Regions from separate parts of the Homo sapiens genome. Here all the other regions are linked to region 1. Evidence: fine-mapped expression QTL. A gene starts in region 1. Each other region holds a variant in brackets. All regions are shown on one strand. Distances are between the middles of the regions. Region 1 holds the start of FOXK1 (forkhead box K1). Region 2 overlaps FOXK1 (forkhead box K1). Region 3 overlaps FOXK1 (forkhead box K1).

The links. PIP is the estimated chance that this variant, and not a neighbour inherited with it, causes the effect.
Region 2: its variant is fine-mapped to the expression of FOXK1 in pancreas (GTEx, PIP 0.93).
Region 3: its variant is fine-mapped to the expression of FOXK1 in testis (GTEx, PIP 0.90).

Annotation. Positions count from the first base shown.
Region 1 is chr7:4,678,965-4,687,222 of GRCh38, forward strand. FOXK1 (forkhead box K1) reads left to right here and starts at 3,331. Exons shown (of 9, transcript NM_001037165.2): 1 at 3,331-3,904. The coding sequence starts at 3,345. RefSeq lists enhancers at 2,332-2,832, 3,034-3,328, 4,188-4,715 and silencers at 3,042-3,411, 3,562-3,631.
Region 2 is chr7:4,745,457-4,753,456 of GRCh38, forward strand. All of the region lies in intron 2 of FOXK1 (forkhead box K1), which reads left to right. Among named protein-coding and RNA genes, the nearest start is that of AP5Z1, 26 kb to the right of the region's middle. RefSeq lists an enhancer at 4,388-4,887. The variant C/T (reference allele first, on the strand shown) is at 3,128.
Region 3 is chr7:4,757,198-4,765,455 of GRCh38, forward strand. FOXK1 (forkhead box K1) reads left to right here. Exons shown (of 9, transcript NM_001037165.2): 6 at 1,854-2,020; 7 at 2,114-2,398; 8 at 3,867-4,091; 9 at 4,987-8,258. The coding sequence ends at 5,267. Among named protein-coding and RNA genes, the nearest start is that of AP5Z1, 14 kb to the right of the region's middle. RefSeq lists an enhancer at 3,224-4,423. The variant A/G (reference allele first, on the strand shown) is at 3,123.

The DNA of each region.
Region 1 (8,258 bases):
CCTGCCTACCCCTCCACGGCCCATACTTCCTTCTGTATCACACAGAGTTCCCTGGCAGGGGCACTACCCTCACAGTCTCACACCACTTCCCTAATCAGGCATCCCTTAGACCTCAAGGAGGAGCCCCCTGACTCTGTTTACCATCCCCCCCACCTCAATCAAGCAGGTACTCAAGTTACTGCTCCTGCTAAAAATGCGTTCCTTGGCCGGTCACGGTGGCTGACGCCTGTAACCCCAGCACTTTGGGAGTCCGAGGCAGGTGGATCATGAGGTCAAGAGATCGAGACAACCCTGGCCAACCTGGTGAAACCCCATCTCTACTAAAAATACAAAAATTACCTGGGCATGGTGGCACACACCTGTAGTACCAGTTACTTGGGAGGCTGAGGCAGGAGGATTGCTTGAACCCTGGAGGCAGAGGTTGCAGTGAGCCGAGATCGCACCACTGCACTCTAGCTTGGCAACAGAGCGAGACTCTGTCTCAAAAAAAAAAAAAAAAAAAAAAAAAAAAAGCTTTCCTTGCCTCCCAAACACTTATCTCTGCATGCACATATTCAAGGCTGAGAGATGAGATTAATACCTATTTCAGCCCCAGACTGGAGCGTGGGTGTGCAGGTCAGGGAAGCTCCTGCCTTAGACAGGCCCAGTCTCTCGTTTACACTTGCACGTCACCATGCACCAGTCCCTCACCGGATGTATCACAGCTGTGACTTGATTTTACTTTTTCTAGGATGTGTCTTTGATTTATGTCTGCATCTCCCCCTCAACTATAAGCTCCACCAGGGAGGGAACTGTGTCTCCTTTCCCACCCTTAATAATTCGTAAATGAGGGAAATGTGGAAACTGCACCGCCTTTTTAGGGGAACCTGAACTGGCAATGGAGGACCAGGCTACTGAAGTCCGAAAGGGATCCCAATGATGCCCACGTTTGCCACTCCCTGTTTTCAGCTAAGATTTCTCTCTGGGGCATTCTCTCAGATCTGTCTTAGCTGGATCTAGCATATTGAATGAGTGAAGGGCTCCAGAAAGAAAGAGAGATAGGCTGGGCGTGGTGGCTCACGCCTGTAACCCAGCATTTGGGGAGGCTGAGGTGGCAGACTGCTTGAGCCCCAAAGTTGAACACCAACTTGGGCAATATAATGAGACCCTGTCTCTATAAAAAAATTGAAAAAGGCCAGGTGAGGCGGCTCCCGCCTGCAGCCCCAGCACTTTAGGAGGTCGAGGCAGGTGGATCACCTGAGGTCAGGAGTTTGAGACCAGCTTCACCAACATGGTTGAAACCCCGTCTCTACTAAAAATACAAAAATTAGCTGGGTGTGGTGGCAGATGCCTGTAATCCCAGCGACTTGGGAGGCTGAGGCAGGAGAATCGGTTGCAGTGAGCCGAGACTGCACCATTACACTCCAGCCTGGGTGACAGATTAAGACTCTGCCTTAAAAAAAAAAAAAATTAAAAATTAGTCGGGCATGGTGGCTCATAGTCCCAGCTACTTGGGAGGGTGAGGTGGGAAAATCACCTGAGCCCTGAAGGTTGAGGCTGCAGTGAGCTATGATTGTACCACTGCACTCCAGCCTGGGTGACAGAGTGAGACCCTGTCTCAAAAGAAAAAGACAAGAAAGAGAGAGAAGGAAGGAAGGGAGGGAGGGAGGGAAAGAAAGGAAGGAAGGAAGGAAGGAAGGAAGGAAGGAAGGAAGGAAGGAAGGAAGGAAGGCAGGCAGGCGGCCGGGCACGGTGGCTCCCGCCTGTAATCCCAGGACTTTGGGAGGCTGAGGCGGGCAGATCACCTGAGGTCGGGTTTTCAGGACTAGTCTGACCAACACGGAGAAACCCCATCTCTACTAAAAAAATACAAAATGAGCCGGGCCTGGTGGTACATGACTGTAATCCCAGCTACTTGGGAGGCTGAGGCAGGAGAATTGCTTGAATCCAGGGGGTGGAGGTTGCGTTGAGTCGAGATTGCGCCATTGCACTACAGCCTGGGCAACAAGAGCGAAACTCCGTCTCAAAAAAAAAAAAAAAGAAGGAAGGAAGGAAGGGAAGAAAGAAAGGAAGGAAGGAAGGAAAGGAGGAAGGAAGGAAGGAAGGAAAGGAAGGAAGGAAATGGAGGGAGGAAGGGAGGGAGGGAAGGAAGGAAAGGAAGGAAGGAAGGAAAGGAAAGGAAGGAAGGGAAGGAAAGGAAGGAAGGGAAGGGAAGGAAGGAGAGGAAGGGAAGGGAGGGAGGAAGGGAAGGAAGGAAGGAAAGAAGGGAGGGAGGGAAGGAAGGAAGGAAAGGAAGGAAGGAAAGGAAAGGAAGGAAGGAAAGGGAGGGAGGAAGGAAGAGAGGGAGGGAAGGAAGGAAGGAAAGGAAGGAAGGGAAGGGAAAGAAGGAGAGGAAGGGAAGGGAGGGAGGAAGGGAAGGAAGGAAGGAAGGAAAGAAGGGAGGGAAGGAAGGAATGAAGGGAAGGGAAGGAATGAAGGGAAGGAAGGGAAGGAAGGAAGGAAGGAAAGAAGGAAGGAAGGATGGATCAGGGATTCAGGGATGGATCTCAAGTGGTCTTCAGTTACAGTAGAGTATGATGACCTTTAATCTGAGGGCTTAAGAATGATCAGGCCTGGCACTGTGGCTCACACGGGTAATCCCAGTGCTTTGGGAGGTCGAGATAGATAGATCACTTGAGACCAGGAGTTTGAGACCAGCCTGGCCAACATAGCAAGACCCTGTCTCTATAAGAAGTAAAAAAATTAGCTGGGCGTGGTGGCACTTGTGAGGCAGAGGCAGGAGGGTGACTTGGGCACAGGAGGTGGAAGCTGCAGTGAGCTATGATTTTGCCACCGCACTGCAGCCTGGGCGACAGAGCGAGGTTAGAATATAAACATATGTATTGTATATAATACACATATATTTTATCTTCTGTCTATCTTACACTTTAGGGTTGGGGGCCTGGAGTGTCTGGGGCGGGGAGACTGCTGAGGTCATCCGTCCCTTTCTCCAATGACCCAGGCTCAAAACTTTGTGGCTGGGCATTTCAGGGGTCCCCTCTTCCCCCTGGATGGAGGAAAGGGCGCCCGCCGCCTGCAGCCCCGCGGGGAGGGGACGAGGTGCGCCGGGCCCAGCTCTCCCGGGGGCCCGCCGGCCCTCCCGGCACAGGCCTCGCCCCCAGCCCCGCGCTGGCGCGCGCCACGTGGGCTACGCTGGGCGGGACCGGCGGGCGGGCGAGGCGAGGCGCACGGTGGGCTGGGAGGCTCCGCTCCGCGCCGGCGCGATCTGGCCCGGGTTTCCGCGCCCGCCCAGCGCCCCGACCTCCCCGCCCCCCGCGCCGCCGCTGCAGCCGCCGCCGCCGGAGGCCGCTCGGAGCCGCGCGAACATGGCCGAAGTCGGCGAGGACAGCGGCGCCCGCGCCCTGCTCGCGCTGCGCTCGGCGCCCTGCAGCCCAGTGCTGTGCGCCGCAGCCGCCGCCGCCGCCTTCCCCGCGGCCGCACCCCCGCCGGCCCCCGCGCAGCCCCAGCCTCCGCCCGGGCCGCCGCCGCCGCCGCCACCGCCGCTGCCTCCGGGCGCGATCGCGGGCGCGGGCTCCTCCGGGGGCTCCTCCGGGGTATCCGGGGACTCCGCGGTCGCGGGCGCGGCGCCGGCCCTGGTGGCCGCGGCGGCCGCCTCGGTACGGCAGAGCCCGGGGCCGGCGCTGGCGCGGCTGGAGGGCCGCGAGTTCGAGTTCCTCATGCGCCAGCCCAGCGTCACCATCGGCCGCAACTCGTCGCAGGGCTCGGTGGACTTGAGCATGGGCCTGTCCAGCTTCATCTCGCGGCGCCACCTGCAGCTCAGCTTCCAGGAGCCGCACTTCTACCTGCGCTGCCTCGGCAAGAACGGCGTCTTCGTGGACGGGGCCTTCCAGAGACGCGGCGCGCCCGCCCTGCAGCTGCCCAAGCAGTGAGTGGCCCCGCGACCCCCGCCGCCCGCACCCGGGGCTCGCCCACGACCTCGATCTCTGAGGCCCGGGCCTGGGGATCCCCCTCCAGCTTCCTCGGCCTCGACCCCCACCCCCCGGCCCACCCCCGGTAACCCCCGACCGGCCTGGACTCCGGGGTCAACCCCGACCCCCGCCTCCTGGCTCCCTAGGATCACCCCGACCCCGATCCTGGAGGCTCCAGCCTGAGGATCTCCTCCACTTTCCCCGGTCTGGATACCCCGTCGCCCCCGACCCCCACCGGCCTGGACTCTGGGGTCAGCCCTGACCCACACCTTGCGGCTCCTGGGGTCACCCCTGACCTCATCTCCCACCGGCCTGGGCTCCTGGAGCCACCCATACCCCAAGCCCATCTGGCTGGGCCTCTTAGACCCCTGACCCAGATCCCTGCTGCTCCCCAGCTCCCATCGGCCTGGACTCCGGGGTCATTCTGAACTCCCACTGGCCTGGATCCCTGGGGTCATCTACGTCCCTACCCTGCCTAAACACGCAAGGTTAACCGCGACCCCCACTTCCTAGGCCCCCCCGGAGTCACCCCTGACCGCTAACCCCACAAGCCTGGGCTCGCAGGGCCACTCCCACCCCAGCTCCACCCAGCTGGGTTACTGAGGTCACCTTGACCCCAGTCCCTGCTGCCTGGGCCTGGGGATCACCCTCAACCCTTCCAGGTCACCCTGGACCCCCACCAGCTTGGACTCCAGGGTCACCCCAGCCTGACCTGGTTCTCAGGACCACCCCCGACCCCCACCAGCCAGGGCCTCAAGTCACCCCAGTGCCTGATGCCTGCCGTCCTGGACCCCAGTGGCTACCCCTGACCCTGTCTGGTCTGGACCCTTGGGCCACCCCCACCCCATCCAGTCTGGGTCCTGGGGGACCCCAACACACTCACCCAGGACAGTGGGAGGGTGTTGCTCCGGGAAGTGCGAGGTCCCTAGGAGTGTGGGCTGTGCTGAAGGAGCAGAGGCCTGGCGGGGAGGGGCGAGGACAGGAAGCCTGTGCCTCAGTTTACATCCCCAACTAGTGCTCCTTGGATGGAGTAGCGGGACCCCAAGATCAAATTAGATTCCCCCGGGCCCGAGGTCACCAGGGCAGAGAGACCCAGCTGGGCCTGGACGGCTGCCCAGGCCTGTCGGTGCCTTTGGTAGCATCCCGTGGTCACCTCCCGCCCATTCCGGTTCCCTCCTTTCCAGCTCCACTGCCCTCCGCACCCTCTGCTCTGCCCCGGACCTCAAGGTCTGTTGATCAGGAGAAAGCCTGTTTAATTACTCATTTCCTCTGGAGCCACTTTCTTTTTCTATTTAGTGATTGCCTCTAACTCATCACCAGTGTTTATATTTCTTCAATGTGGTTCTTGTTCAGGGTTGTCTGTCTAATTACTCCCTTTTATAAACGCCTTGCGTCTGGGGAATTTTTGCTGGGGTAATTCCCAGGGCCCAAAGTTTGTGTCTGTAAACTTCTCCCCTTTTTTAGTCTTGGCATGTTTGGTTACAGATATCGCATTGAATAATTTAAAATGCAACATCAACAATGACTCACTCCCCCTTGGGGCGTGAGAGGGGAAGTATACCTTTTTCTAACCGTGCTGAAAGGTGTGCATTTTGGTAAAATCAGAACTCAGGAGATAACAAATTTGTTCTTTGCCTCAGATATTAGTGTGTTCTCTCTCTTCCATAACCAATACACTCTCTCCGTTTGGGGCCATTAAATGCATTTCCTGGCCACTCTCCCCTCCAGTAAGAAAATGACAGGTAGGCTCCCCAGGCCCCCCTTAGAGGCCTGCTTTACAGACGCACCTTTATATAACTCAGGTTCACTAAGTACTTCCATTAAAGTCTTGTTTTCAGGTTTCCTGCCCCTGCCGTGGAAACAGGTGCACTCCTGAGTCAGGCCCAGCTTTAGTGAATCTTGAAGGAGGCTTTCACGGTATTTTTTTTTTGTAATTCAAGGGGAAAAAATTTCAACCTCAGATCGTCTACGAATAGGCCAGTAGCAAGCCTGTTATTTATGAAATGTTATCGGTGTATACAGTCCTTGCACATTTATGCTCCAGGGAGCTCGTGTTCTCGGTGGGTGCATTACCAGGCATTGTGGTGGGGCTGTCAGGCTACACAGATGCCCGCCCGCTGACTTGGTGCATTAGATGTGCGTGAAGTGCTTGGCCCACTGCGCCTGTCTGTTTTTATTTGACTTCACCTGCACATGTGAGCAATATCTATGTAGGCAGCAATGTAAAATTTACAAGAACAAAGCAAATGTGCAGAAGGAAAAACATTAAGTGGATGTCCATGTCCACCCTCCTAGAAAAGAGCTATTTGCTTTTTTTTTTTTTTTTTTTTCTGTCATGGAGTCTCGCTCTGTTGTCCAGACTGGAGTGCAGTGGCTCACTGCAAACTCTACCTCCCGGGTTCAAGAGATTCTCCTGCCTCAGCCTCCTGAGTGGCTGGGACTACAGGCGCACAACACCACGCCCAGCTAATTCTTTGTATTTTTAGTAGAGATGGGGTTTCACCGTGTTAGCCAAGATGGTCTCGATCTCCTGACCTCGTGATCTGCCTGCCTTAGCTTCCCAAAGTGCTGGGATTACAGGCATACAGGCGTGAGCCCCTGCGCCCGGCCTCACTTTTTTTTTTTTTTTTTTTAATTTTAGAAAACTTACACCTAAGTAGTCACATATGTAGAACAGGCTGTCATAAACTTTTTTGGTTAGGTAAAGATTCTTAAGCCTGGACTACATTTGGTTAGGTAAAGATTCTTAAGCCTGGACTACAGCCTCACGCCTGTAATCTCAGCACTTTGGGAGGCCAAGGCGGGTGGATCACTTGAGTTCAGGAGTTCAAGACCACCCTGGCCAATGTGGCAAAACCCTGTCTCTACTAAAAATACAAAAATTAGCTTGGCGTGGTGGATCACGCCTGTAGTCCCAGCTACTTGGGAGGCTGAGACAGAAGAATCGCTTGAACCCGGGAGGTGGAGGTTGCAGTGAGCTGAGATCACGCCACTGCACTCCAGCCTGGGCAACAGAGCAAGACTCCATCTCAATAAAAAACAAAATGAAAAAAAAAAAACCAAAAAACGATTCTTAAGCCTATTATGTTGAAAGTCATTAAGAAATTTTAAGGATTTCAGCGCAAGGAAGTTAGATGCGTAAGTTTTTGTCACCCTGAATGGGAAATTCATCACCGAATGTCAGGAATTACTGTGTCTGTTTTCTCTCCGGCTTTGGTACCTGGTATTGCCACTGCTACTGGAAATTGTGAATTTGTTTACTGTAAACTACAGATTCTCTTGCTGTGTTGGAATGTGATTGCCTTGGACGTGCTTGGATTTGGTGGGAGGTCTATGTTGTGTTGGTGCCCACACCATTTTCCAAAGCTGTGTTGTCCGGGGCCACCCTCTTCACCTTGGGACAGGTACATGCCACACACACTTCCAGTAGAGCTCCCACTCAGGAAGGATGCCAGAATTCAACCCCTATTTGTTACTGGAAGTACGTAATTCCAAATCTTCAATATTTTTAATTATTGGTGGGGGAAAAAAAAGACTTGTGACCCAGCTTAGAGCTGATCTTGCTCTACTGGGTGACACTACGCCTGGTGGGTAAGCATCTCGCCAGAGCTCCCAGGCACAGGGGGAGTGTGCGTGGGTTCTGATTCAGCTTTGCTTGGTGTTGACTTGGAGGAACTGCCCGGGTCTCCGTGATAGCGTTTCTTCTAGACCATAAGCTCCCTGTGGCTGGGGCCGAGAATTTATGATGTTTCACCAGAGACCTAGTGCAGGCACTGGCTCCTATTAGGTATGCAACAACTGGGTTCTGTTTGTTGAGTGAACAAATTAATGACCACATGAATTTGCAGCTTCTGTAGGAGAAAAACGGCGTCATCGATTTAGTCTGGTGTCCTAAAAGGACCATGAGCCTGTCATGGGGGGGAATTCAGACAGCCTTCTTCGGTTATGGGGAGGGGGGTGAGGTGTGTGTGTGCACATGTGTGTGTGTGCTGTCATTCTTGATGCCACTTAATTTTTTTTCTTTTCTTTTTTTTTTTTTGAGACAGAGTCTTGCTCTGTCACCGAGGCTGGAGTGCAGTGGCGCGAACTTGGCTCACCGCAAGCTCCGCCTCCCGGGTTCACACCATTCTCCTGCCTCAGCCTCCCGAGTACCTGGGACTATGGGCACCTGCCAGCATGCCCAGCTAATTTTTTGTATTTTTAGTAGAGACGGGGTTTCACCGTGTTAGCCAGGATGGTCTGGATCTCCTGACCTCATGATCCACCCTCCTCGGCCTTCCAAAGTGCTGGGATTACAGGCGTGAGCCACCA
Region 2 (8,000 bases), 66 kb after region 1:
TGTGGGTGTGTGGTTTTGTGTGTGTGTGTGTGTTTCTGATTTATTTTTTTCTGCCCTGAAGTACTCCACCCAGAAAATGAATGAACTCTCTTTGAAATAAATTCTGCTATCTTTAGCAGAAGTTTGACCTTTTCTTTCCTTTTTGCAAAGAAGGATTTTTACAGGCCAGGCGCCCGGTGGCTCAGGCCTGTAATCCCAGCACTTTGGGAGGCTGAGGCAGGCGGATCACCTGAGGTCAGGAGTTCGAGACCAGCCTGGTCAACATTGTGAAACCCCATCTCTACTGAAAATACAAAAATGAGCCAGGTGTGTAATCCAAGCTACTTGGGAGGCTGAGGCAGGAGAATTGCTTGAACCTAGGAGGCAGAGGTTGCAGTGAACCAAGATTGCACCACTCCAGACTGGGCGGCAGAGCGAGACTCCATCTCAAAAAAAAAAGTGTTTTTAGGAAGGAATTAAAGTATTTAATGAAAGAATTCAAGTAGTTAATCATTTTCTAGGTTCCATCAGACAGACACCAGTCTAAAAAGTGTTCCTTAGAGGTAGAGTTTTAAGAAAACTGCTGAAATTCAGTGAAAGGACATTGCACAGAGTGACTGTTTTTGCTCATGAGGGCAAGACTTCAAGAGCTGTTTCTCTTAAGGCTCTTCCTGATTTCTCCAACGTGGAGATCAAAAATGAAAGTAACTCGTACAATTCGGCGAAGGTCAGCAGTATGTAAATATACAGTAAAAATGCAGCAACTGACTTCAAAATCTTTCCCTTTTAATCATGATTTTTAAACAGTTCTGTCTTATTGCTAGATAACATTCAGTCCTAACTTGGTTTATGTTGTTTTGTAAAGTTAGAGGTCTTTTGAGTTTGGAGGTTATTGGATCTACGTTAGAAATACTCTCCTTTTTCTGACAACTTTGGTAGCTTCCTGCAGGGTGATTCATCTCTTTCAAAGTTTCTGGTTGGCTGGGTGTGGTGACGCACTTTGGGAAGCTGAGGCAGGAGGATTGCTTGAGGCCAGGAGTTCCAGACAAGCCTGGGCAGCATAGTGAGACCCCCATCTCTAAAAAAAAAAATTTTTTTGCTAATTAGCCAGGTGCAGTGGCTCATGTCTTTAGACCCAGCTACTCGGGAGGCTGAGGCAGGAGGATCGCTTGAGCCCAGCAGTTGGAGGCTGTGGCGAGCTATGATGTCACCACTGCACTCCAACCTGGGCAACAGAGCAAGACCCTGTCTCAAAAAATTAATAATTAAAAAACACAAGTTTGTGGCTGCAGCCTTCCGTGTGTTTTCAGCAGGGCTGCAGGAGGATTGTGGTGCGAATGTGTGAATCACCCCTAGCGGGAATCCTGCCTGGCTGATCTGGGCTGGCTGTGCCAGCATTTGCAAATCCAGTGAGGGTCCCTCTTCCCTTGTCTGCCTGTCCCTGTCCCTGTAGGCCTTGCTGCCCCTCCCCACCCCACCACACCCTCTTATGTCTTTTCCCAGCTGAGAACTCTGGGGAAGTAACTATTGTTTCCTCCACATGGGAAGGTTGGGACTTTCTGTCTTCCTTTTATTTTTCCCTCCTGCCTAGATCCCTTCGAGGGGCAACTTTGGCGCTAAAGTGTTGGGAGTTCGGAATGAAGCTTGGTAGGGAAGTCCTTGTGTTTGTCCGAATCTGTTGAAAGGACATCCCCACGCCCGCGTTTCCTGTAATCTCGGAGGGTCCTAGCGCCCGACTTCTCAGGTCAGCCTCGGGTGACAAGCGGCTTGTGTGGAGTAGGCCTGTTGCATGGCTTCTGTGCGGGCATGTTACGCACGAGGACAGCCCTTTCCGGGTTCCATGAGCCTCAGGGGAAGCAGGAGGCGCCTGCAGACACGGAGCTGACCCCGGAACCTGCCTAGCTGCGGGGCCGCCTCTCCGCTCAAGCACCCACTCAGCTCTGTGAGGTCTATGCCTAACATGAGAGCAGCTCCTGTTGAAGCCACCATGCTGGTTATTCTCACCAGGGCAAAGTGCACTTCAGAAACAAGTTAATTTTATTTTCTAAATTATTATTTTTAATGCTGGTTCCAATTTGGGTTTGGGGGGTTGATTTTGTTTTTGTTTGTTTGTTTTTTGGGACAGGGTCTCACTCTATTGCCCAGGCTGGAGTGCAGTGGCACAGTCACAGCTCACTGCAACCTCAACCTCCCGGGCTCAAGCGATCCTCCCACTGCAGCCTCCTGAGTAGCTAGGACTACAGGCACCCACCACCACACACACCCAGCTCATTTTTTATTTTCGTTGAGATGGTGTCTTGCCCAGGCTGGTCCTGAACTCCTGGCCTCAAGCAGTCTTCCCACCTTGACCTCCCAAAGTGCCAAGATTACAAGCCTGGGCCTGTTTTTGTTGTGGTTGTTGTTGCCTTTGTTGTTTTTGTTTTGTTTTGAAGCAGGGTCTTGTTCTGACACCCAGGCCGGAGTGCAGTGGTCCGGTCACGGCTCGCTGCAGCCTCGACCTCCGGGACTCAAGCGATCCTCCCACCTCAGCCGTGACTACAGGAGCAATCCACTAGTTAATTTTTAAAAATAGCTTCCCAGCATTTTACAATGTCGGATTTATCTTAAAGGAACACATTCTTTAAGATCATTCTAAGAAATTCGCCTCTGAAAATTTTCTTTCCCTATTTGTTTATTTTTCCTTTTTCAGATTACGAAGAGACTATCTATCTATCTATATGCATCTTACAAAATGCAAACATTTCAGAAAGTGAAAATTCCCCCACACAACGCTCCCCAGAGCTGAGCCCTTCTCTCTCACTTCTGTGTCTCTGAGTCGTATTCGTACGTGACTGTCTCTTGGTTTTTCCGTTTTAGATATTACACATGAGGTTCCTATATGGAAATTAAGGATTTAGCTTCCCCCCTCCCCATCCCAGTAAAGTTACATCATCATGTCTGGTTTACCTTGCATGAGCGTTTTCTGTATTAGAACTGTGTAGTGATTGTAGCGCTTAGCCATTTCCTTCCTTGTACTTTTGGCTTATTTCCGCCACACTCCCCCCGCTCTTGGGGTTAATAATGGCCTCTTCTCCCTTTACTGTGAAGGCCTTCCTCTGGGGCCCCTCTGACCATGGGATCATCTTCTCCACCATCCTGGGAATCCCCT[C/T]AGGAGGTGGTGGTGGAGAGAGGGCTGTTTCCTGATTCCCACGTCTTCCTCTTTCCTGATTTGTTCCTTTGTTTTACCAGAGTCCATCCCCCAGTCGCTTCCTGGGAAAGGGCACAGGAGACAGACTTTTCATTTATTCACTGATTTAAGAGACAAGGTCTCACTTTGTTGCCCAGGCTGGTACTTCTGGGCTCAAGCGAGCCTCCTGCCTCAGCCTCCCGAGTAGTAGGGACTACAGGTGTGCACCACCATGCCCGGCTAATTTTTGTATTTTTTGTAGAGGTGGGGTCTCCCCATGTTGCCCAGGCTGGTCTTGAACTCCTGTGCTCAAGTTATCTGCCCACCTCAGCCTCCCAAAGCGCTGGGATTACAGGTGTGAGCCACCTCGCCTGGACCCCCAGGTTCCTGTCCACGCTTCTGGGACTGGCTGTGCCTGGCGGGCCTCTGAGCTGAGTCTCTCATGCCTCTCCTTTCCTTTCTCTCTCTACTTTCTGAGGGATTTTCTCCAGTCTCTCCTTCCACCCTTTCTTGGATTTGTATTTCTCTTCTTTTGAATTCTTATTTTTTAATTTGAAGAGCGTGTTCTTGCTCTGCAGGTGTGCTTTGCATGCTGTTCTTACTGTCCTACAGAGACGGCATCGTTACCTCCCTAGGGACGGGAACCATGTTTCATCTCCTCCCAAGCTCCCGTAGGCTTCCCTGGGTCCCTCTTCTCTTCTGTTTTGCACCATGTTCCACCTGGTAGAAGCTTCCTCAAACCACAGATGTGCCTTGGCCGGCTGTTGTGTTTAACAGTGAGGTCCTAAAAACCCTCTTAGAGCGGCTGGTATTGGAGCAGGGGCTGGGGCAGGGACCCCAAGCGTCCTCCTCTGCAGGGAGGTTCCCCCAGGAGGCTTCAGGTGCCGCCTTGGGACGCAAAGGTCATCGCAGACCCCCGCAGCCTTCTCGCCCCTCCACTGCCCACAAGGCTCCGTCGCAGCTCCTTCCTCCAGCCCCTCCAGGCGGGTCCCTCTGTGTCTCTAGGGCTTCAGGAGGGATCAGGTCCCTTCTGACAGAGCACTGTCCTCCCTGGGCCTGCCGGAAGCGATAACTGTCCCGACCCTAGGCCTCTCAGGGTGGCCTTCTCAGCCTCAGAGCAGAGCCAAGGGCATTGAGGGTGGACTGGAAGGACCGCAGCCCTGTGCCCTGGGGAAGGCTTGTCTTAGGCTCTGGGGACGGAGCCCAGCTGGCGGCTCCAGAGGTGGCTTTAGGTCTGTTGTTGGATTTGCCTTTCTCAGCGTGACTTCTCATCATAACGTGACCCAGCGACCTGTGTGTCCCACAGCCCGTCCGTCCCTCTGCAGTCTCCCTGCACTGGCATGTCCTGGGTGGTCCCAGTGGCACCTTCTAGGCCCGGCCCCTGGATGCGGTGGAGGCTGCCCGGGGTGGGTCAGCATGGGGTTGTCCCTGTGAGCACAGCTCCGGGAGACCCGTACTCAGAATCCTCCAGCTCTCTCGCCTGAGGCGGAAATGTGACTTGGGAATTGTCCTCCATATAAAGGAAGCAAAATCAGGGCCTAGGGGTGAGCTGCTTACTGTGCTTCTTCCCTCTCTCAGCCTCCAATCGGGGGGCACAGGCGTTTGATTCCCGCGACGTCTGTGGGCTGTCACTGTCCAGCCTCTGCGTCCCACACCTGGGCAGCTAGGGACTGGGGGGGGCCTGACCGAGGCCTGGGGTACTTACCCCAGAAGGAGTGATTCCCTGTTTCCTGGAATTGAGCTGGTGGTCCCTGTCAGGGAGCAGTGGGGTCCCCTCAGCTTCCTGCTCTTTCTCATTCCCGCAGGAGGAAATGTGTGCACGTGTATGCCGTCGTTTTCAGCACTTTTTTTTTTTTTTTGAGACAGAATCTCGCTCTGTCGCCCAGGCTGGAGTGCAGTGGCACGATCTCTGCTCACTGCAAGCTCCGCCTCCCAGGTTCACGCCATTCTCCTGCCTCAGCCTCCCAAGTAGCTGGGACTACAAGTGCCCGCCACCACACCCAGCTAATTTTGTTTTCTGTATTTTTTAGTAGAGACAGGATTTCACCGTGTTAGCCAGGATGGTCTCGATCTCCTAACCTCGTCATCCACCCGCCTCGGTCTCCCATCTTTTTTTTTTTGAGACAGAGTTTCACTCTTGTTGTCCAGGCTGGAGTACAATGGCATAATCTCGGCTCACTGCAACCTCTGCCTCCCGGGTTCAAGCAATTCTCCTTCCTCAGCCTCCCGAGTAGCTGGGATTACAGGCATGCACCACCACGTCTGGCTGATTTTGCATTTTCAGTAGAGACGGGATTTCTCTAAATCGGGCAGGCTGGTCTCGAACTCCTGACCTTAGGTGATCTGCCCACCTCGGCCCCCTCAAAGTGCTGGGATTACAGGCGTGAGCCACCGTGCCTGGCCTTCAGCACTTTTTTTTTTTTTTTTTTTTGAGATGGAGTCTTGCTCTGTCGCCCAGGCTGGAGTGCAGTGGCGCAATCTCGACTCACTGCAAACTCCACCTCCCAGGTTCATGCCATTCTCCTGCCTCAGCCTCCAGAGTAGCTGGTACTACAGGCACCTGCCACCATGCCCGGCTAATTTTTTGTATTTTTTTTTTAGTAGAGACGGGGTTTCACTGTGTTAGCCAGGATGGTCTCGCTCTCCTGACCTCATGATCCACCCTCCTCGGGTAATCCCAAAAGCATTGGGATTACCAATCCCAAAGCACTGGGATTACAAGCGTGAGCCACCGTGCCCGGCCCAGCATTTTCTTTAGATTGCTAAGGGAATGTTTCCGTGGACTCCCAGCATCAGACATGGGATGTCTTGATTAGTTTTCCGGATGGCTCCAAGGCCTCTGGCTTTGGAGCTGGGTGTCCCATCCCACCCTGGCTGGGCGCCCTCAGACCTGTCTTCCCCCAGGGCACTTTACAGCTCTTAGCGGCTGTGAGGCTCGAGCAGCCTCTGCTTCCCGCCTCCGTCAGCTGCAGGCCTGGTATCGGGGGCCTTGGTATCAGGAGCCTGGTACCAGGCACAGCCCCGTGGCCGAGGCCCGCCTGCGGAGGACAGTTGAATGGGGCTTATTGAGAGACGGGCTGCTCCGAGGGCTGGAGGAGCCATGTGAACAAACACATGTGGTCCCTCAGCCCAGGTGGCTGGAAAACCTCAGAAGCTGCGCTGTCGTACCTGTCCCGGCTGGAGTGACACCAGGATCCGGCAGCCCAGGCCAGGTCCAGTGCTGGGGAAAGTGGCGGAGAAACCACCCTACTCTCTCGCCTGTGGGAGCCAGGCTTCGCCAACCTTTCTTATTTCCACTTGAAATCATTCTCTGGGGAATGACAACTTTTCCTGTGGGTTTTACTCCATGAGGTTTTTTGTTTGTTTTTTGAGATAAGGTCTCACTCTGTTGCCCAGGCTAGAGTGCAGTGGTGTGATCATAGCTCACTGCAGCCTCGACCTCCCAGGCTCAAGCCATCTTCCTGCCTCAGCCTCCTGAACAGCTGGAACTGCAGGTGTGCATTACCACGCCCAGCTAATTTTTAAAATGTTAAAACTTTGTTTATTTATGTATTTATTTATTTATTTTTAGAGACAGGGTCTTGCTCCGCCAGAGTGCAGTGGCACAATTATAGCTCACTGTAGCCTCAAACTCCTAGGCTCAAGCAGTCCTCCTGCCTCAGCCTCCTGAGTAGCTGAGACTACAGGTGCACACCACCACACCTGTCTAATGTTAATATTTTTGTAGAGATGGGGGTGTCACTATGTTGCCCAGGCTAGTTTCGACCATGTGGGCTCAAGCGATCCTCCTGCCTGGGCCTCCCAAATTGCTGGGCTTACAGGCATGAGCCACCGCACCCGGCAGACATGAATTTTCTATGATCTTCTGCAAAATAACTGCTGGGAACAGGAGCAGGTCCCTGCCACACGTGCTGGGCCATCACTGTTTGTTGTGGAGTGCTGGGGGGTGCCCCTCATTGGTCCTCAGGAAGGATCCAGGAGCCCGCCTGCCACCTCATGGGCCTCGGATGAGATTTTCCGAGCTGAGTGGCCATTCCCCAGCCTGTGGCCGGAGATCAGAGTGTATGTGAGTGACACCTCGGCTCAGTGGTCCCCAGCAAGGACTGACATTTCAGTTCTTCCTGCTGAGTCCAAGGGGGACGTCCAGTGGCTTTGGGTCTGGGACCGGGTGCACAGGCGTGTGCTGGCCCCATTGTCTGCAGCCCCTCCGGCCATGAGGCCATCCTGCCTCAGCAGGGAGGTGTTTGGTTCCCAGAGGCCTTTGACAAAGCCGATTTTGGGGGCTGTGTGCTGTTACCAGTCAAAACCTTTCTCTCCCCTTCTCATCTTACTTGTAAACTTGGGTTTTGTATTTTGGATTCAGAACTAAATTCAGAAAAGGTTTCCTTTTGACTGTTTCCTACCTCGATCGAGCCATTTGTGGGTGTTCATTTAAGTTTCGACACGTGTGGAACTTACCTATCTCTGCCATATTTGGGGAGTCCGTTGTAAGAGAGAATGGGAATTCCAGATCAGAGTCCTTAACGTTCCATGTGGGTGACACTGAGTCCTTCCTGAAAATGCCCCAGACCTGAACTGATCATTAATGTCAGCTGTCAGGTTTTTCTCAGCCACAGGATTTTTTTCATTCATTCCTCTGCTCCATCCAAAAAATGTTTCTTGAGCCCCGCCTGCACCCAAGGGGGCTCCTACTTAACCTAAGTTTTGGAGATCTAGGAGTCTTGTGCCTGGACAGTTAGGGAAGGATGTTCCTGGCAGAGGAAAGGGCAGCAAGGCGGGAGGAGGAGAATGGACCTTCTGGATGGTTCTGGATGGTTCTGGGTGGTTCTGGATGGTTCTGGGTGGCCTGCAGGGC
Region 3 (8,258 bases), 78 kb after region 1:
CTGAGCGCCCGTCCTCCAGCTGTTAGGAAAGCTGAGCTGCCCTGGAGTTTAGAGATACGTGGCGCAGTCAGCCCTCCGGATCTGTGGGCTCAGGCTCAGTGTACGGGCATGCAACTGATCACAGGTCAAAAATATTCCAAAAAAAAGAAGGCCGGCGCGGTGGCTCACGCCTGTAATCCCAGCACTCTGGGAGGCCGAGGCAAGTGGATCACCTGAGGTCAGGGGTTTGAGACCAGCCTAGCCAACATGGTGAAACCCCTGCCTCTACTAAAAAAATTCAAAATTAGTCGGGCATGGTGGCAGGTGCCTGTAATTCCAGCTACTGGGGAGGCTGAGGTAGGAGAATCGCTTGAATCTCGGAGGCAGAAGTTGCAGTGAGCCGAGATTGTATGTACCACTGCACTGCAGCCTGGGCGACAAGAGCAAAACTCCGTCTCAAAAAAAAAAAAAAAAAAAAAAAAAAAAAAGTAATACAAATGAAACAATACACACTACAACAGCTGTTTACATAGCAGGTACATTTGTTAGGGATTATAAGTAACCTGGCGATGATTTAAAGCTTACAGGAGGATGTGCACAGGTTGTATGCAAATGCGACACCATTTCTATGAGGAACTTGGGTAAGCATCTGCAGATTTGGTACCCACAACCCCCGCCCCTCAAGTACCGAGGGGTGACTGCTGGTTTCGGCACTTAAAGACTGCACCATTTTCTGTTTTTGTTTTGAGAGAATATCTCAGGACCAAGAACTCCTAAAATAGTAAGGTTACTAAGTAAGCCACTGACTGTTGTATTAAAAATAAGATTTTAGTTCTTAGAAGTGGAAATGTGTGTAGCAATAGGAACGGTTCCTAAGGCCAAGAATAAATGGATTGCGGTTGTGGGTCTTTTGGTAGCACTAAGCTTTCTGTTGCAGTGTGTGAGAGGACCCGGGGAGAGCCCAATCTTCGAAGGGACAGATGAGGGGTATGACCTGGGGAGCCCACAACCGCCTTTGCTTTTCGCAGATGCTGGGAACGCAGCTCTGCTGCCGGCGGGGTGGACAGACCCTCCCCCAGCCATTGCTGCCCACCTGCTGCGTCAGGGCCTCCCCTGCCCAGCTCAGTCTTGGCCAAGCCCAGTCTGGAGGAGCATGCACCGCCTGTGAGCGGTCTGGGCAGCGCTTCCCAGGTTGCCCATCAGATGAGCCCGTCCCAGGTGTCGAGGAGGAGATCTCCTGAGCGGCAGTCTCGGAAATCCTTCCCCGTGGAAGGACACGTTAACCTCTCGTGCTTCCCATTTCAAAATTCTGTTTCCAACACGATTTGATGAAAGATTGAAATATCTGAAAATTCATTTCGAGCACAGGGTCTGGCATTGTGATTCTCAGGTGAACTGGGCGTATGGTTGAGGTAGGACTTCAAAAAAGTGTTCGAACGTCATTTGCAGCATTTAAACTGAGCTCCAAATGACGTTCAAACACCCCTCTCGGGTAGAGTTTTCATGGTGGAACGGTTGCGCCCACCAAACAGAAGCTTATGTTTTTGGCACAGAAGGCCTGGGCCATTTTCATGGACACCTGGCTGGACCTCGGTGGAAGTGAACTCCGTAGGTTGTTGCGTTCACTGCAGCACCTCACATGATACCGTCCCCTCTCATGGAACGGAGCCTCCCCCATGCAGCCCCCACTCAAATGGAGTTTTAAAGGCTGGGTTCAGGTTACGGGGGCGTTTCTCACCGTCTGAATGCGGAGGACAGAGACGAGCTCCAGGGAGCGTGGGCGGGTGACGGCGCTGAGATGCGTGATGTCTCGGAAACGTCCTCGCATCCCTCAGCGCGGGCGCTGACTGCCGCGGCCCTTGCCTGTCTTCCAGGAGCGCTCCAGCTTCGCCCACACACCCCGGGCTGATGTCCCCTCGCTCCGGCGGCCTGCAGACCCCAGAGTGCCTGTCTCGGGAGGGCTCCCCCATTCCACACGACCCTGAGTTTGGGTCCAAGTTAGCTTCTGTCCCAGAGTACCGGTATTCCCAAAGCGCACCCGGTAAGGAGCGGGCGGCCCTCTTGCGGGGCGGGGCGGGGCGGGACTCGTGGGGGTGCGGGAGGGGTCACCGTCCGCTCTCCGCCCTCCGTGCAGGCTCCCCCGTCAGCGCCCAGCCAGTGATCATGGCCGTGCCTCCCCGACCGTCCAGCCTCGTGGCCAAGCCCGTGGCCTACATGCCCGCCTCCATCGTAACCTCACAGCAGCCCGCGGGCCACGCCATCCACGTCGTGCAGCAGGCCCCCACCGTCACCATGGTCAGGGTGGTCACCACATCTGCCAACTCGGCCAACGGATACATCCTCACCAGCCAGGGCGCGGCGGGGGGCTCCCATGATGCGGCGGGCGCAGCCGTGCTGGACCTGGGCAGCGAGGCCAGAGGTAATGCAGCCGCGGCTGGCAGCCTTCGCAGGACCCTTTGTGGTGGTCCCGGCCGGCAAGTCCCCAAGGCAGCGCCATTGGCCTGGGCCTGGGGCTTGAGGAGGATGATTCTCTGCTTCTGCCTCTCGCTGCCTTGTCCCTTTAAATCAGCATGAGCTGGGCAGGTGGCTCATGCTTATAATCCCAGTGCTTTGGGAGGCCAAAGCGGGTGGATTACTTGAGGTCCGGAGTTCGAGGTCAGCCTGGCCAACATACTGAAACCCCGTCTCTACTGAAAATACAAAAATTAGCCAGGCATGATGATGCGCTCCTGTAGTCCCAGCTACTCAGGAGGCTGAGGGAGGAGAATCGCTTGAAGCCTGGAGGCAGAGGTTGCAGTGAGCTAGACTGCGCCACTGCACTCCAGCCTGGGCGACAGAGCAAAACCCTGTCTCAAAAAAAAAAAAACCCATGAATCTCCGCAGATGTGTCCTTCCTTGTTGAACAGGGCCCTCGGATGCACATAGCTGTGTCCTTGCCCTAAGGTAACGTTAAATTGAGTTGTGTTGCGGCCTTGCATGCATTTGGAATTTAGTGTTTTCTGCAGGAGAAAGAATGAGCCTGGGAAGACTGTTCTTTTCGACTCCCTCGTAAGTTAAAGACTTTAGAAGTCATTTAGGGAAAAAGTAGTTCTGAATTGCTAAAAGAAATCCGATCCCAGGGCTTGACGGGGTAGACACTGAAC[A/G]TGCAGCTGACCCCAGAAGCTCCTCTCCGGAACGCCTGCAGTTAGGCAGCGCCCTCCTAGGCCACTCTCCACCCTGGACTTCCTCTCCGCGGTGGTGTTTGTTTCAATGCTGCCGTAATGAAACTGCAGTTTGGTGAGGGAAGGCCAAGTTACAGCTGTAATCAGGATCATTTCATTCCAAGTAATACGTTTTCTTTCTCAGACTAAATTTGGGTTGGTTAAAGCTAAGGTATTTAAAATACTGTTCTAGGCCGGGCGCGGTGGCTCACGCCTGTAATCCCAGCACTTTGGGAGGCTGAGGCAGGCAGATCACTTGAGGTCAGAAGTTCAAGACCAGCCTGGCCAACATGGTGAAACCCCATCTCTACTGAAAATACAAAAATTAGCCGGGTGTGGTGGCAGGCGCCTGTAGTCCCAGCTACTCAGGAGGCTGAGGCAGGAGAATCGCTTGAACCCGGGAGGCGGAGGTTGCAGTGAGCCGAGATGGCACCCCTGCACTCCAGCCTGGGCGACAGAGCAACAAAATTCTGTCTCAAAAAATAAATAAGTAAGTAAAATATTGTTCTAAAACCCTAGTAATTTTCTTCCCAAACCTATTTCACCCATGGGATTTTCCTCTAGCAAACCTATTTTTTCCCAGTGCCGACCTCACTTTCCCCACTTGTCCGACCTGCTGCCCAGGCGTCGAGGAAATCGATTGTCTCGTTGGCCGAGTGTGGTGCTGACTTGGTTCCTGTCCCGCAGGCCTGGAGGAGAAACCCACCATTGCGTTTGCCACAATCCCCGCGGCTGGTGGAGTCATCCAGACGGTGGCCAGCCAGATGGCCCCCGGGGTCCCCGGACACACGGTCACCATCCTGCAGCCCGCCACACCCGTGACCCTCGGGCAGCACCACCTTCCAGTCCGGGCCGTGACCCAGAACGGAAAGCATGCGGTTCCCACGAACAGTTTAGCCGGCAACGCTTACGGTGAGGCCCTGGCCCTGTTCTCCATGCCACATCCCAAGCTCTGTGGCTCCCAGTAGTCAGTGCGGCATGAGAATGTTCTCCCAGTATCTCCCGATCCTCCACTCAGTTCAATTTATTGAGCACCTGCTATACTCCAGGCACTGGGGTAATGCAAAGAAAAAGAGGGTGGAAGGGGCCACCTATCATCCCAGCACCTTGGGAGGCCAAGGCAGGCAGATCGCTTGAGCTCAGGAGTTCGAGACCAGCCCGGGCAACATAGCAAGACCCCATCTCTACATAAGATTCAAAAACTTAGCCAGGTGTGGTGTTGCACGCTCATGGTCCCAGCTGCTTGGGAGAGTGAGGCTGTAGTCAGCTGTGATTGCTCCGCTACCTGCCAGCCTGGGTGACTGAGCGAGACCCTGTCCCTTTAAAAAAAAAGTGGGGGGAAAGAAAACAGGGTGGAAGGAAAACCCAGATCTGCCCACTCTCTGGAGCTCACACTCCATGGGGTGAGGCAAGAGGTCAAAGGAAGGAGGAGAGTTGGGGTGCTGGGGTGCAAGGGTGCTGGGCGGGGGTGCAGGGTACCAGGGCACCGGGCGCATTGTCAGTGGGGTGGCTCAGGGCAGTGCATCTGTGTAAAGGAGTGAGGCAAGCCGTCGATGTCCAGCAGGATCTAGACAGCAATGAGAGGGGCCTCCACCCAACAGGCTGGAGCCAGCAGAGACAGGGCAGATGAGGTGGGGAGGGGACGGCAGGGCCCGCAGGGAGCAGAGCAAGGGTAGCCGTCCTGCCTGGCAGGGGTGCACTGACCTCCGGTTCCGGCTTGGTGGCTTAGCCCCTGTATAGGGGACTTGAAAAAAGCAGCTGGGTCCTAACCAGACCCCAGAGTAACCCTCTTCTTCCTCCACTCCAGCCCTCACCAGCCCTTTGCAGCTCCTTGCGACCCAAGCGAGTTCATCCGCGCCGGTGGTGGTCACCCGGGTGTGCGAGGTGGGGCCCAAGGAGCCAGCAGCAGCCGTCGCGGCCACGGCCACCACCACCCCAGCCACTGCCACCACCGCCTCTGCCTCCGCCTCTTCCACTGGAGAGCCCGAGGTCAAAAGGTCCCGGGTGGAGGAGCCCAGTGGTGCTGTAACCACACCGGCTGGAGTGATCGCAGCTGCCGGCCCCCAGGGGCCAGGCACCGGGGAGTGAGGTCACCTGCAACGCGGGGGAGTGGGACTCACCCAGCGGCGACCCCGAAGCTGGACCCGGCAGCTCAGGCGGCCGCACCCACAGACGGAGGAGAACAGCCCGCGGCGGCCTGTGGGCATCGGCGGCACCTGGACACACCCAGCCCTTTCCATTTGATCGCCTGCCTTCCCGTGGTTTAAGACAAAAACACATAAACAAGTTCAGACAACTGATTGTATGATTCTGGGAATTCTTTGCTTTCCTTTCCTTCTCCCTCGGCACCACCTCCTCTCCCCAGGCCTCCCTGTCGGGCATGGGGAGGAGGTTGGAGCTCAGCATCTTGAGGAATGTGTCAAGACAGCCCCTCCGCTCCGCGCTGCACGGCCAGCCGCCTTTGTCCGGGAGGACAGACAGAAACGCAGCAAGGCACACACCAAGGCTGCCGGGGAGGCCCGGGCACCGGACAGATGCCTGTTGGGAAGCCAGGAGCTGCCGAGCCACGGACCACCTAACAGCCTCTCCGCCCGGAACGTGACATAGAGAGTGTTGGCATTAACTCGGGGGGTGTCCGATTTCACTTCAGACCCCAAGTTTTTCTTTGTTTGTTTAAACATGGAATTCAGACTTCATTGTACACCTGAGACAGACACAAAAGGGATCATGTATTTTTGAGGATTTTACCTGTTGACGTCTGATGACCGGCCGTAGGTCCAGGGTTCCCGCTGGGTTTAATCCCCTCGAAGAGTAAACCTGCCGCTCTGTCTGATAACTTCAAGTAAGAGCAGCGGCTTCCTGGGTTGGCGTTCGCGGTGGAAGGTTCCTAGGATGAAAGGTGAGCCTGGATCCGCCGGCCGCAGACATCGCGCTGCTGGGGACGATTGGGGCCGCTGCTCTGCAGACCAGACCTTCCCGAATTATCCGTGGCTCCGATGTCCCGGTGCTGACGGCCACATGGGGACCTAACAGTGCCAAACGCCATCTGCTCCAGCTGCTTTTTCACCCAGTTGCAGAGTCCTCACCACTCCCACATTGATCTGCTGTTTTCAATTGGAACCATTTCTCCTGCCTGAAACTCCAGGGCCCCTCCCTGGGCTGTCCGTGAGCAGGAGACCCCACCCCAGCAGCAGTGGTGAGCAGGCCTGTGCCTCCACGCCCAGCCCCCGCCAACGCGACTGGTTTTGTTTGCCACACGGTGAGAACCGGAGGACGGGATGCTCCAGCCAGTTGGGTGGTTCTGGGGTCCCTGAGGAAGCCCCCTCCTGCACTTCCATTAAGACAGCCAGTGGTTCCTGGATCTTTGTCACCAAGCAGCGTTGAGCCAGAGCTGTCTAATGCTGAGCCCAGCTCAGGAAGGAGAGAGGAGTCCTTCAGTGTGTCTTGGAGATGCGAAGTGCGTCCTCGTAAAGGTCAGCTGTCAGTTTTGCTGGCCGCTCCGGCGCTGGCTCTCCTGTCCGGGACCACAACGAGAAACAGCGACAGATTCGACGCAGAGCTCCGGAAGTGCCTGAGGAGCAGTGGTTCTTGGAAATCGCCCGTCCTCCGCATCACAGCCTCTCACCAGCAAAGCAGCCTCTGCCCAGGCCCTGGCGGGAGAGCTGCAGAGGGACCCAGGTGCCTGGAGGGCATTTGAGGGAGGTGGCTGGACAGGTGTCTCCCTGAAGAAGAAGGGAGAACACTTTTCAAAGTGATTCCGAGGCAGTGCGGGAGGACACACGTGCTGTGCAGTGGAGTGGGGTCGCCCGTGGCCCCCATCAGAGTCCCCGTCCCCCAGGACAAGTGCAGAACCTCTGTGGGCCCCCTCCTTCCACCTAGATAGAGAAAACCCCTTGTTCGGTTTCCTTCCCGTGTCCCGTTGTTTTTCTAAGCCCCCCGAATTGAGTCGTTTCTATGGCACTAACCTTTCCATGGGAAATAAGCTCTTTGTGGAAGTCCGTACCTGTTGCCCTGGGTGAGGTTTCAGAGAAACGGGGGCAGGATGAACACAGCCGGCTGTCCTGGGTGCAGTTACGTCCGTGGAGGGTGAGAGATTGCGCCCCGTTCCACACTTGTGTCGCCTGCTGTTGTCTGTGGGCCTTTTCTTTCCGTGGTGCCTGGTGTGTGCGTGCATGGCGTGAGAGAACGGGGGGTGGGGGTTGGAGGTGGCTCCCCGACACCGGTGCCTGTGTGGCCTGAGCCGGCGCCCTCCCGGGAGCGCCCGTCACGGGGGGCCTCTGTGATTACCTGCTGCTGCTCTCTCCCGCGTGGTGACTATATGTCCTCAGGGCTGCCTGTGGCCACCCTGATGGGAGACCTCTGTTTGCTTCTGGGCCACTGCAGGTTGGCCTCCTCAATACAAGCTGATGTCTGCAGGGAGCGCCGCGTGCTGGGATTGCACCACGTGTTGGTCACAAATCGAGGTCGCCTTTTGGCCTGGTCTGCTCAGGCTGGCCCTGACCCACGTGGTTTCCTGGCTTCTGAGACGCAGCGCATTCTTCCTGTTAGCGGTAGCGTTCTCTGATTTCACTGCTTCATTGCCAAGGGCGTGGAAAGGGGGTGGTGGATGGAGCCGGGAGGTGGCGAGCACAGGACCCCGGGGCTGCATTCTGCCGTGTGGGGTTCTGCACTGTCTAGCTTCTGCGGGGACTGCAAAGAGGGATGAAGGGACGTGGTCCTAGGGGTCGGCTCAGACTCGGAGCAGGGCAGGGAGAGGAGGGCAAGGAGAGGAGGCCTGGGTCCTGGATCCACTGCTCTGGGCTCATAACCATGAGATTTTGAAAGAGTTTTTGGTCATCTGAGCAGGTACCATGCCTGGCTCATGCCGGAACTTGTCTTGGAACCGGTAGCCAGAGGCCCAGGAAGGGACAGGGCCCAAAAGGGTTGCATGTCCCGGCCACAAAGCCCTCCCTGTGTGCCCTGAGCCAGCCCAGCAAGCGCCTCCCAGCCAGGCGCTTTCGCAGAAGCAAGAGCACAGGCCAGGGGGACCGGGAGAGCCTCAGCCCCCAGCCTGGGCGGCCTGTGACCCTGAGCCGTGTG